2 separate regions of the Homo sapiens genome follow, and region 2 is linked to region 1. The links come from fine-mapping of genetic effects on gene expression. A gene starts in region 1. The other region holds a variant in brackets. All regions are shown on one strand. Distances are from middle to middle. Region 1 holds the start of TMEM132C (transmembrane protein 132C). Region 2 overlaps TMEM132C (transmembrane protein 132C).

Evidence for each region.
Region 2: its variant is fine-mapped to the expression of TMEM132C in whole blood (TOPMed, PIP 0.97).

What each region holds. Positions count from the first base shown.
Region 1 is chr12:128,264,631-128,269,998 of GRCh38, reverse strand. TMEM132C (transmembrane protein 132C) reads right to left here and starts at 2,829. Exons shown (of 9, transcript NM_001136103.3): 1 at 2,512-2,829. The coding sequence starts at 2,596. LOC107987176 (a long non-coding RNA gene) reads left to right here and starts at 2,967. Exons shown (of 2, transcript XR_001749176.1): 1 at 2,967-3,428. RefSeq lists enhancers at 1,788-2,626, 3,162-3,683.
Region 2 is chr12:128,700,816-128,706,183 of GRCh38, reverse strand. It overlaps TMEM132C (transmembrane protein 132C), which reads right to left. Exons shown (of 9, transcript NM_001136103.3): 9 at 1-1,094. Among named protein-coding and RNA genes, the nearest start is that of SLC15A4, 120 kb to the left of the region's middle. The variant G/A (reference allele first, on the strand shown) is at 3,278.

The DNA of each region.
Region 1 (5,368 bases):
GAACCTCCCAAGAACAATTCTGCCTTTTCCGAACCCTGACAAATTGCAAAGCCTCTAAATCCACAGTCAAAAATAAACAGACAATTGGTATTAAAAATTAATCAGTGGTTTCAAGGATTCCAGAAATCAGCACTTAAATCCGTGTGCAGGAAGAGACAGAGATGGCTTTTTTTTTTTAAAGACAGCAGAAATGTAAACAAGGTCAGCAAACTTTCCTCTCTAGAAGATATCTTACGGTGCAAACGCTTTACGTGTGGAGGAATCCGAGGGGGGAATGAACTGCTGCTTTTGATCATGAGAAACAAACGGAAAATGTATTTTGCAGATGATAAGTTGCAGGCCCTTATGCACCCCCAAATCACGTGGTGAACTTTGTAAAGCAAAAAGCAGGGAAAGAAAGCCCCATCAAATCAAGGTTGCACTTAGCTAGAGGGCAGAGGCGGTTTGGGATAGGGGTGGGGCTTCGCTACGTCCCTAGTTTTCAGCACTTTCCCTTGTTGTGCAAATATCAGCTTCAAATCCAGTCCCAGTTGCCTTTCCAGCCAAATCACTGCCCCCAGCACTGAACACATGGACATCTGTAACAGCCACTCTCGTAATCAAAAGTAAAATCCTCTGGATACACACACACACACACACACACACACACACGGAATGTGAGCCTTAATGAAGAACAGTCCACACTTGCTTTAAAGGGAACATCCAGTTCGCCTGGTTAAATTCTCTCAAGGGCAAGGGGTGAAAACCCGGAGGAGGTCGGTCACGCCCTGCTCAATTAGCACCGCCTTCCTCTGCAAAGTGCTTTACTACCCATTCAGTCATTTTATCAACAAAAAACTGCTGGGAGGTAGGTTGGGAAGGGAATTCTTCAATGGCCACTTTGCATCTAGGAAAACTGAATCCTAGAAACGCTGGAACCTAGAGCTAATTAACAGCAGAATTCAGGCACCAGATCGTGACTGTTGACTCTTTCAAATAAAATAGAAAAGTGCCCCCCTCTCCTACTCCTCCACCCCCGACTTGCCCCCCCTTTCCCTCGTCTCTCACCCCCTTTCCCCCCTCTCTCGCCCCACCCTCTCTTTCCCTCTTCTCTCACTCCTTCTTCCCCCCCCTCTCTCACCCCACCCTCCTCCCTACCTGGAGCTCTTGGAAGAAAGGAACACTTATATAAAACATAGCAAACTTGTCTGGTTGGTGTATCTGGGAAAGCGCAGCCTCAAGGAAAGTAGATTTTTCTGGATTTTCAGGCGGTGCAGAATGACTTTTGAAAAGCAAACGCTACTTTTAAACCTCCATTGACAACTTGTCTCTCTGAACGCATTTCTAGCTCAGCCTCAGAGCATTAGGCGGGAGAAGGGTGGCTTTGAGTGTTCTCTGCTCAGAGCCTGGGGCCGATACTGGACCCGCGGCGCCGCGCGAAGGCTCAGGGCACCCATGTGCGCACCTCCGTTTAACCAAATGAACCCGAGACCTTCGCCAGGGCGCGGGGAGCAGGAAAGCGACGCTCTCCTTTTTCTACGCCCTGGGCGCGCCCCGGGACTCGGGCAGCTGCTGCCCTGGCAGAGCCTAGGCCTTGCTCCCCGCCTGCCCCGCGGCTCCTGGGGCTGGAGACCGCCTCTCCCCGCCCTTCCCGCCGCCGCATCCGCGCGGCCACTCGGCCGCACACGCACATAATAAAAAAGGTCGGAAAAACCACACGGCTACCTTTCGTGAGCCCTGCGGGCGCCATACGTTAACTCCTTTAAATTCCTCCAACCCAAAGCAGGGCCGTCACTCCCATTGTAGAGAAGAGGACACTGAGGTGAAGGAGCCCCGGACAGGACCGCTGGTGAGGTAGTTCCCGTCGCGAGGGACGCACCCACCTCCCCATCCGCGCTCCCCCACCGCAAAGGACTCATTTGAGAGAACCCGCAGAGAGCCCCTGGTTTCTGCCAAGCTGGGGTCCCTGGTGAGCTGCGCGATGAGTGAGCGTTCCTCTAGGGCCCGCACAGAGACCCTAGCGGTTGCGGAAAGGGGATGCAAAGAACCGGGCCTTCCCTCCTGGAGCACCAGCCCCACAGTGCCGAAGCTGTGGATGGGGAGCTGTGGACAGGGAGCACACAGCCGGGAGGAAGGAGCGCACAGAGCGGAGCACCTCTCCTGGATGCCAGTTCCACAGGGTGACTGTGCTGGGGCTGGGGCAGGTCCGCACGGAACTCAGGGATGGGGAACAAACACCGTGTCCCTCAGCCACGCCCCCTCCTCATCCGCGGGGCAGCTCTGGGTCTGGGGGGTCCGGGGTGGGAGATTCGGGACTCGGGACCAGCCTAACTTGCCCGGATCCCGGCGCCCAGCTGGGAGCGCCCTTCTGGATTAGGGGCGGCTCGGCACCCGCAGAGGCGCTGTTGATGGGATCCGAGCCCCCGCCGAGGCCCCCGCCGCACCCCTCGCTTCGGCTGCCCTCACCCCGAGCTCCCCCGGAACCGGGAAGTTCGCATGCGTCGGCGCGCCAGGCACCCGCCCCGGCCTTACCTTTGCCCAGCAGCGCGCCCAGCAGCAGGCTCAGCGCCCCGCACAGCGGCGCCGCCGGCCCGGGGGCCGCACCCTCGGAGCGCATCCTGCGTCCCGGCCGCTCACGCAGCCCGCCGCCAGCCCGAAGCGCAGCGCCCGCCCGCGGCCCCCGCCGGCCGCCCCATGCCCGGGGCCACTCCCGCAGCCCGGTCGGCCGGGCCCGCTGCGTCTCTGCTGTCCGAGGCCCGCCCCTGCCGGGTCCACGCCGCCGCAGCTCCGGCTCTGGCTCTGGCGGCTCCGGCTCCGCCGCTGCTCGCGCTCCGGCCGGGACAACTTTTCTCCCGCAGCCTCCGCAGCCTCCGCAGCCGCCGGCCCGCCCCGCCCCCGGCCCCGCCCCCGCCCCCGCCCGGGCCCCGCCCCCGCCGAGCCCCGCGACCGCGGACAGATTGAGGGTGCGGTAGGAGAGAGTTCGCCTGCCCGCCGGGAGGGGCGGCAGATGGAGAACCCCCCCGCCCGGGCTAGGGAGGGTGTGCCCGGGAAAGAAGACCGGGAGAGGAGGGGGCGTCTCCCCAGGCGGCTGGGACGGCTCCTCCGGGGGTCCGCGCCTTTCCAGAGAAACTCAGCGTTCGCAGACTCCTGCCCGGGTGCCCAACGGACAGCGGCCCGTGGCCCGGAGGGTCCTGCCCAGGGACCCGACGCTCAAGGCGGAGCTGGACTCCTTCTCCCCACCCTCCCGTGGTCACTGCGGGACCTGGTGGTCGTCACGCCCCATTCCTCAACTTCAGGTGGCCGCTGCTTTAGCCTGGAGGGCTGGGGACATCTGGAATGCAAAGTCCCGCGCAGCTGCTGCGGGGAGAGCTCCTAACTGGATCACTGAGCGCGGAAAAGCAGCGCGCAGCGGAGCGTGAAGGCGGGGTGCGGGCTCAAGACAGATGCGGGTGTGCACCTGTGCGTGTGCGGAGGGGGCGAGGCACGAGATCACAGCGGTGTCTCTGGGAAGGGGACGAGAACGCAGAGGGGAAGAAAGGATCATTTTTCACTGCATGTCTGTGGGGCTTCCACTCCCCAATCATCTCCCCGCCGCCCATAGCATGTGTTTTATTATCTTTTCAGTGGGTGGAGAATAGCCCCTCTCTAGACTTGCTCCTGCAATAGGCAATTTCTCTGCAGACTCAGACAAGGAAGATCCGCCCTCCCCCCCCCCCCCCCGACTTCGTTCTCTCTATCTTTTCCCTCTGATTTCTCCAGGGCTGGCCTCCCTCATGGTGGTGATCCCAGGTGATCTCAGCGGCTTCCCTGTGCGGTTCCTGATGCTCATGCTCTGCTCTTTCTGCCACGCGTGGTCTGAGCAGTTTGAGGGCGGGACCCCGACTCCCCCCTTGTGACTGGGAATGAAGGGCCATGGGTTCGGAGGTCTCTGGACGTCCCCTCCTGTCCTGAGCTCCTCACCACGGGCTCAGCATCCCCTCTCACCGTGGGCTGGCTCGGTCCAACATCAAAAGGAAGCCTGAGGGGTCTTTTCTCACCATCAGTGCAGGAAAGAATTTCAAAAGAAAAAAAGAAGTCCTTGATTGAAAGAAAAGAAATGTAAACGAATGATCCCCAGCAACTGCAACCCCAAGTCTTATCTCCCAACTCAGCCCCTAAGGAATGAGCCAGGCATAAGGAGAAATTGGGGCGGGGTGGGGCGAAGGCTTTGCAGGGCACTGGCCAGAGTGGGAGGCTCTCTCCTGGGGTGGGGCCCGGAAGTCTGGGCCAGGCTGGGGGGAGATGTCTCCCTGGTTTTCTTGGCCGGCTCTACTCACATGATGTGAGGAGAAGGCAGCTTGAAAACTATCCAGGCCCCAAAGGGAACGGTAAAAGCTTGATTCTCATAGGCCTGGATAGCAGAGACTTGATTTTTAAAGTGGATTATGCTGATAATCGCCCAATTCTTCAGTACATTCAGCTAGTGTAGACCTGACCTTGGGGGCAGGGGGCAGTTGTAAAGTAGATTTGGGCTCCTAAAACGGAAGGTACGTTTTATTCTCAGTGCTTTGAGCCTGAACATCACCGGGGAATAATTTTTTTTTCATTTAAATGTTCCCAGCATGAGGGAGAAATACACATGTCCCATTGTTTGTAACTGAGGATGGGAATCTGCCTTATCCTCTCTCCTCCCTATTGGATAACAGGGACAAAAAATAAAAACCCAAAGAAGTGCCCTCCACTCCCCTGTTCTATGCAGCCTCATAATGTACCTTCTTTCCACATCATTTCTTTCCTTTTGGCACAGAACATTGCTGTCCCTACTGCAAAGACAAGTCAGGTCCTGGACTACATCTCTGTGATGCAAATAATCAAAACCAGGGGCTACCAAACAAGCCACAGCAAAATAAATACTAATTCAACATGGGGTTGGAGTGGGGAAAGGATTCTCAATCAGATAAGCTCACTGCACAGCACCCCAAAGGCAGCCACTGTCTTCAGGTGATCCTGAATCACAGATGCCCCTTGAGACTATGATGCCTCCGGGCATCCCCTGTGAGAGCCTTCAGGAGACCCAGCAAATGAAAGCTTCTCTGCAAACCTTCCTTTAGGACTCCATTTAATCTATTGCGTGTCCCTCTCAAGAGCAGTCAAACAAACATGCACACAAAACTGAACAAACAAATAAAACAGATGATATAGTCAATTTCTCTTTCATAGGTAAATCCACAAAAATTGAGGTTCATGGGCTAATAAAGTTTTCTGTATTTATTTTTTTTAAGTCATGTATCATTTAACCCCCAAATCATTAATTCCTTAACTTAGATTACTTCCAGATGGTTTTCTGAATTTCATAAGGAACATCAGAGGCTTCTAATCTCCTCAAAGGCTGTTGCAGAATTCCTTAAGG
Region 2 (5,368 bases), 440 kb before region 1:
TTCACCGTGGGGCAGCTGTCGTCCGGGGGGATGGTGGTAAAGGTGGTAAATTTCACCTTCTTCCTCTTGGAGGTGGGCGAGTGCAGGGGGTCCTGCTTCTGTTCTCTGCCCTGCCGCCCCCCGGAGTCGGCTGACCTGTGAATCTGGCTCTGCACGTGCTTGTGGGAGCCACCATTGAGCAGGAGATGGTTGCTCTCCTCGCAGGCCCCCGGTCCGCGGTCTATGATGGTGGTGTGCTCGTCCTGGGGCGGCGGCGCATCCCCCATGCTCTCCAGGAGTTCGGCCTCATTGCCAAGCCACACCCAGTCGTGAGAGTGGGTCATGGAGGCCTGACCTTCCAGGGGCACTTGCTTGTGCCTGTACTTCAGGGCAAAGGTGGCGCAGTTGATCAGGAAGACGAGGATGGCCAGGCAGAACACCCCCAGGAGGGCGTACATCCCTATCTCCAGATCACTCAGGCCCCGCGGAGTCTGCACCAGGTCGTTTTCCTCCAGCCCACTCCCGGCCTTGGGGAGGTCCACGTGGGCAGGGAAGTTGGTGAAGTCAATGGGGATGTTCTGCAGCTGCCCCTCTCCTGCCAGCCTGCCCCCGTCTGCCCGACTGTTCTTCACCACTTTGTTGTCCAGCAGGGACCTGGCCGTGGTAGTGGCTCTTCGGAGAGCCCCTTCCTCACGCTCCACGGGAGAGCTGCCATAGAGGTGCCCATCTTGGCCTGTGCGCTCATGGTGCTGGCCCTTCTGCCGGCGGTCGCTGGCGTGGTTCTTGATCTCATCTTCCTCATAGTCCCCGCCGGGGCTGGAGTCAGCATCGTTCTGTCCGAACTTGACCCTGACGTTGCCGACGCCCACAGCCAGGATGCTCTTGCGTTTAGATTTCTGGCAGGCCTCGGCGATCGTCATGTCCACTCGGATCAGTGGGCCCTGGCCTTCCCCTTCGGCCACCACAACGGGCCACCTGGGAGAGCGGGGCTGGGGGACTGACACGACAGCCTCGTCCTGGGAGGTGGCTGCCAGGGAGAAGTCCTTGGTGTCGTAGATGTCCAGGGGCGTCACAGAGCCATCACTGAACTGCAGCCACGTGCTGAATACAGCCTCCTGCAGGGACACAGGCAGTTAGAAGACCACCTGGGGGATGCCTTTTCCCTTAGAAACCCCCTCCTAGGAGGACGCCCAATGAAACAGGGAGCAGGACCTCAAATCCAGACCCAGTAGCTCATGCATCTGGGGAGAAATCATACAGGTTTTCTATCAGGGGCAGAGAAACCACCTTAATTTAAACAAGAACAAATGGGGATGTGACTAACAGTGCCCTCATAATCCTTACCCAGAACAAACAAATGGCAAAACAAAAATCCCTAAGTGAGATGAGGCTCCGGGTGGCTTTATCCACACAGGTATTGCTTGAATCAGTCAGCCGGTGCATGTTCACAGACAATGACTGGCTTCTAGGGCAGGCCCTGGTCATTTTGTCACACACTCTGTGATTAGTGGCCTAAGTATGATGAATGGATACAGCTGTTGTCTGTATCCAGCCTGATGACAAAGGTTGATGGGCAGGAAACACTGTCAGAACCAATGACATCAGAAAGGAACCTCCCCTCTTCTCCCTGCACTGCCCCCAGTGAATTAAGCTTTGCCTGAGAAACAAGAAAACAAGAGCATTTTGCCCTTTAAGGTTGACCCTGTTGAGCCATTGCAGATGCTTTGCTTGGCTGTAGTTGGGCGGCAGTGATGTGTGGGACACAGTACATGGCATTGGCTGGTGGGCCCGGTTCAATTGTGCTGCCCTTGCTCTGCATGGGTAGCAGAGTGAAAGAGGAAGCAAAGGGCCAGTGTGAAGGGGCTGAGTTTATTTTGCAGACTCACTATACTTCTGTCAGTGACCCAACAGCTATGTAAAAACTATTTGCCATTGTGGGGACTGGTAAAAAAAAATTGACTTTATGTGCCTGGCTTATTTTACTCAAAGTAATGTCTTCCAGGATCATCCATGTTGCTGCAAATGGCAATATTTCATTCTTTTTATGGCTGAATAATATTCCAAAAAAAGGGGAAGCTACTGGCCTAGAAATGCCACTCACACCCATGCCTATGTGACTGGCAGATTCTCATGAGCACAAGGTTTCCTGCTGTCTCGCCTCCTCCCCAGGGCAATAATGACATCCTCTCCCCTTTGTGTGCCCACAGCAAACATAATCCCACAGAAGGCCTTATTCTTGACTTAGCCATGGGTACTTCTATTCTGCTTCCAAGAGTGGGAACTCCCATGAATAGAGGAGGGTGAAATGTGCAATCCTAATCATAAAACAGACAGTCCATATCCACTGGGCACTCGCTGTGGGTCAGGTGTTGTTCGCAGTTATTACAGAACGCATTTTCTCCTCTTCCACAAAGTAGGTTGGGTTATGCTTCCTGCCCAAAGAGAGGTTAAGAACTGTGCTCACATGCACGCATATGTTCATCGCAGCACTATTCACAATAGCAAAGACATGGAGTCACAATAGCGAAGACACAAAGTCAACCTAAATGGCACCTGATCCACAGCAAGTGCCCAGTGGATACAGGCTCTCCACTTTGTGCTTAGAATTGCATATTTCAGCCTCCTCCATTCATCTAGGAAAAACTCTCCAGACCATTAATGATAAACTGGATAAAGAAAATGTGGTACACACACACCGTGGAATACTATGCAGCCATAAAAAGAACAAGATCCCATCCTTTGCAGGGACCAGATGGAGCTAGAGGCCATTATTCTTAGCAAACTGACACAGAAACAGAAAACCCAACACTACATGTTCTCACTTCTAAGTGGGAGCTAAATGATGAGAACACATGGACAGATAGAGGGGAACAGCACACACTGGGGCCTATTGGAGGGTGGAGGGTGGGACCAGGGAGAGGATCAAGAATAATAACTAATGGGTACTAGGCTTAATACCTGGGTCATGAAATAATCTGTACAACCAACCCCCATGACACAAGTGTAGCTACATGACAAACCTGCACAGGTACCCCTGAAGTGAAAATAAAAGTTAAAAAAATAAAAAAAAGAAATATGTCCAGTCATATCGTTAGGAAGAGGCAGGATCAGGGCTGGAACTGCTGTGGCTTTAGAGCTGAGCTCTTGACCACTGTGCTAGGGACCCCCTAGAACAACCACTGCCAGAGCCCATTTTATCAGCCCCACAAAGACCATGATGACTCACCCTCTGCTGAAAAAGTCAAGTAGCTGCCTCCTTTCCTCCCTGCCTTTTTCACAGCAAACCAGGTCTGACCTC[G/A]TGGCCTTCCTGGACCTTTGTCCCCATCCATCCCGGACACTGTCATTGCAGCCCAGGGAGGTAGCAGCACCCACTCCATGGACGGGGCATGGGAAAATCCTACCTGCTGAGCCAGAGATACAGCAGCAAAGCTTGTGTGCGCTCTGAGCACTGGATGGAGATGTCGCCACTCAAAACCAAAAGCCCACACTTGGGTGGGATAACTACCTCTGTGGTATGCGAATTGGGAGAAAAGAAACTCACTTGAAGTTGGACCTGTGCAAATGCAAATACAACCTCCTTCAGAACAAAACAAAGCCGAGCAACCAGGGCTCAAGAGGTGCTCATGATACAAAGAAAGAAAAGTTACAACCTGTAGGTGGCAAGGCTGCACCGGGAGTGGTTGTGTTAAACATTTACACAGGAAGGTGAGCAGACTGATATGTGAGATCATAGAAGACTCCAAAGGCTATAACTTAAAGGAAACCAACAAAAAACAACAGTCTATGAAATAAAACAATAAATAATGTTATTTATGAAATAATAACATTTCATAATAATACATTTCATAATAAATAAATTTCATAATAAATGTTATTTATGAAATAACATAAAACGAACCAACAAAAATAGTCTATGAAATAAAATTAAAAAGAAATTAAAAATTTAATTAAAAAATTAAAGAGACATTAAAAGGAGTTGAAATTGTCTCAATAACAGCAAATGGGGGCCAGATGTGGTGGCTTATGCCTGTAATCCCAGCACTTTGGGAGGCCGAGGTGGGCGGATCACCTGAGGTCAGGAGTTCAAGACCAGCCTGGCCAACATGAGGAAACCCCATCTCTACAAAAAATACAAAAATTAGCAGAGCATGGTGGTGGGTGCCTGTAGTCCTAGCTACTCAGGAGGCTGAGGCAGGAGAATTGCTTGAACCTGGGAGGAAGAGGTTGCAGTGAGCCAAGATCACACCACTGCACTCCAGCTGGGGTGACAGAGCAAGACTCTGTCTCAAAAAAAAAAAAAAAAAAGAAGAAGAAGCGAATGGAAGCAGAGCAGGAAGGGGTGCAAAGAGCCACGTAGAATTTCTAGAAATGAAAAACACAGTCACTGAAATCAGTGACTCAATGGGTGGTTCGAACAGCAGATGAGACATGTTCAAGGAGAGAATTACTGCAGTGGGAGACAAAGCCACCCACGTTACCCCAAATAGAACCACAGGCATATCAAGAAATAAAACTGTGAAGGGCAGGTGAACAGACATAAAGGAGAGAATGAGAATGTCCAACGCTTGTTTGGTAGGAATTCCAGAAGGAAAAATTGGAGTAGCCTGGGAGCAGCCAGTGTTCACAGCAATGATGACTCTACATCCCGCAGGACCAAGGAAGAATGCTAGCAATTAAAAAAAGAATTCTGATGACATCGTTTGAGCATCTACATGTAGCTGTAGCTGAAGATCCAAATGCTTGGACATGAACTGATACATTCTGCTGTGTGTGAAGGCAGGTTGAGTTGGATTGGGTCATATCACTTGTGTTGGTAAGCCCTGGCCAACACCAGCTGGCTCTGAGGGGTGAGCCTGTGTAGGAAGTTTTAGGAGGGTGTGGAGTTCTCTTTGGGTGGCTGCCCATTCAGCTCCTGCTAGCTCAACTTTCAATGATCAACTTTGCTTTTTTTTTTTTTTAACTTATTTTTTGCCCAAGGTCACTCTCTGGCTTCTGGAATCCATGTGGTTGTGCCTACAGCAAGATGTGCCAAGGAGTTAATAAATGCTGTGGGCAGCCCTCAATGAAGGACTCATGGAAGTTGTTATATTTATCCCAGATCCCTTGCCCCTCAAGTGCAGTAACTCTTCTGGCCTTTCTAGACCGGCATACAGTCGCCCAGCAGACAGGAGCTCCGGCTGCCCTTGGCGGCGGCTGAGTTGGTAATACACTCTACTGGTTGCATTTCTCTTCCTTCCATCACCCCCGACTTCTCTACTGGTATTGTCTTCACCACCTGAATAAACTACTTGCACCTGAATCCTTGTCTCAGGCTCAGCTTCTGAGCAGACCAAAACTAAGACAGAAGAGATGGCTCAGCGATGTTGGTGCTCACCCTCGTCTCCTCTGT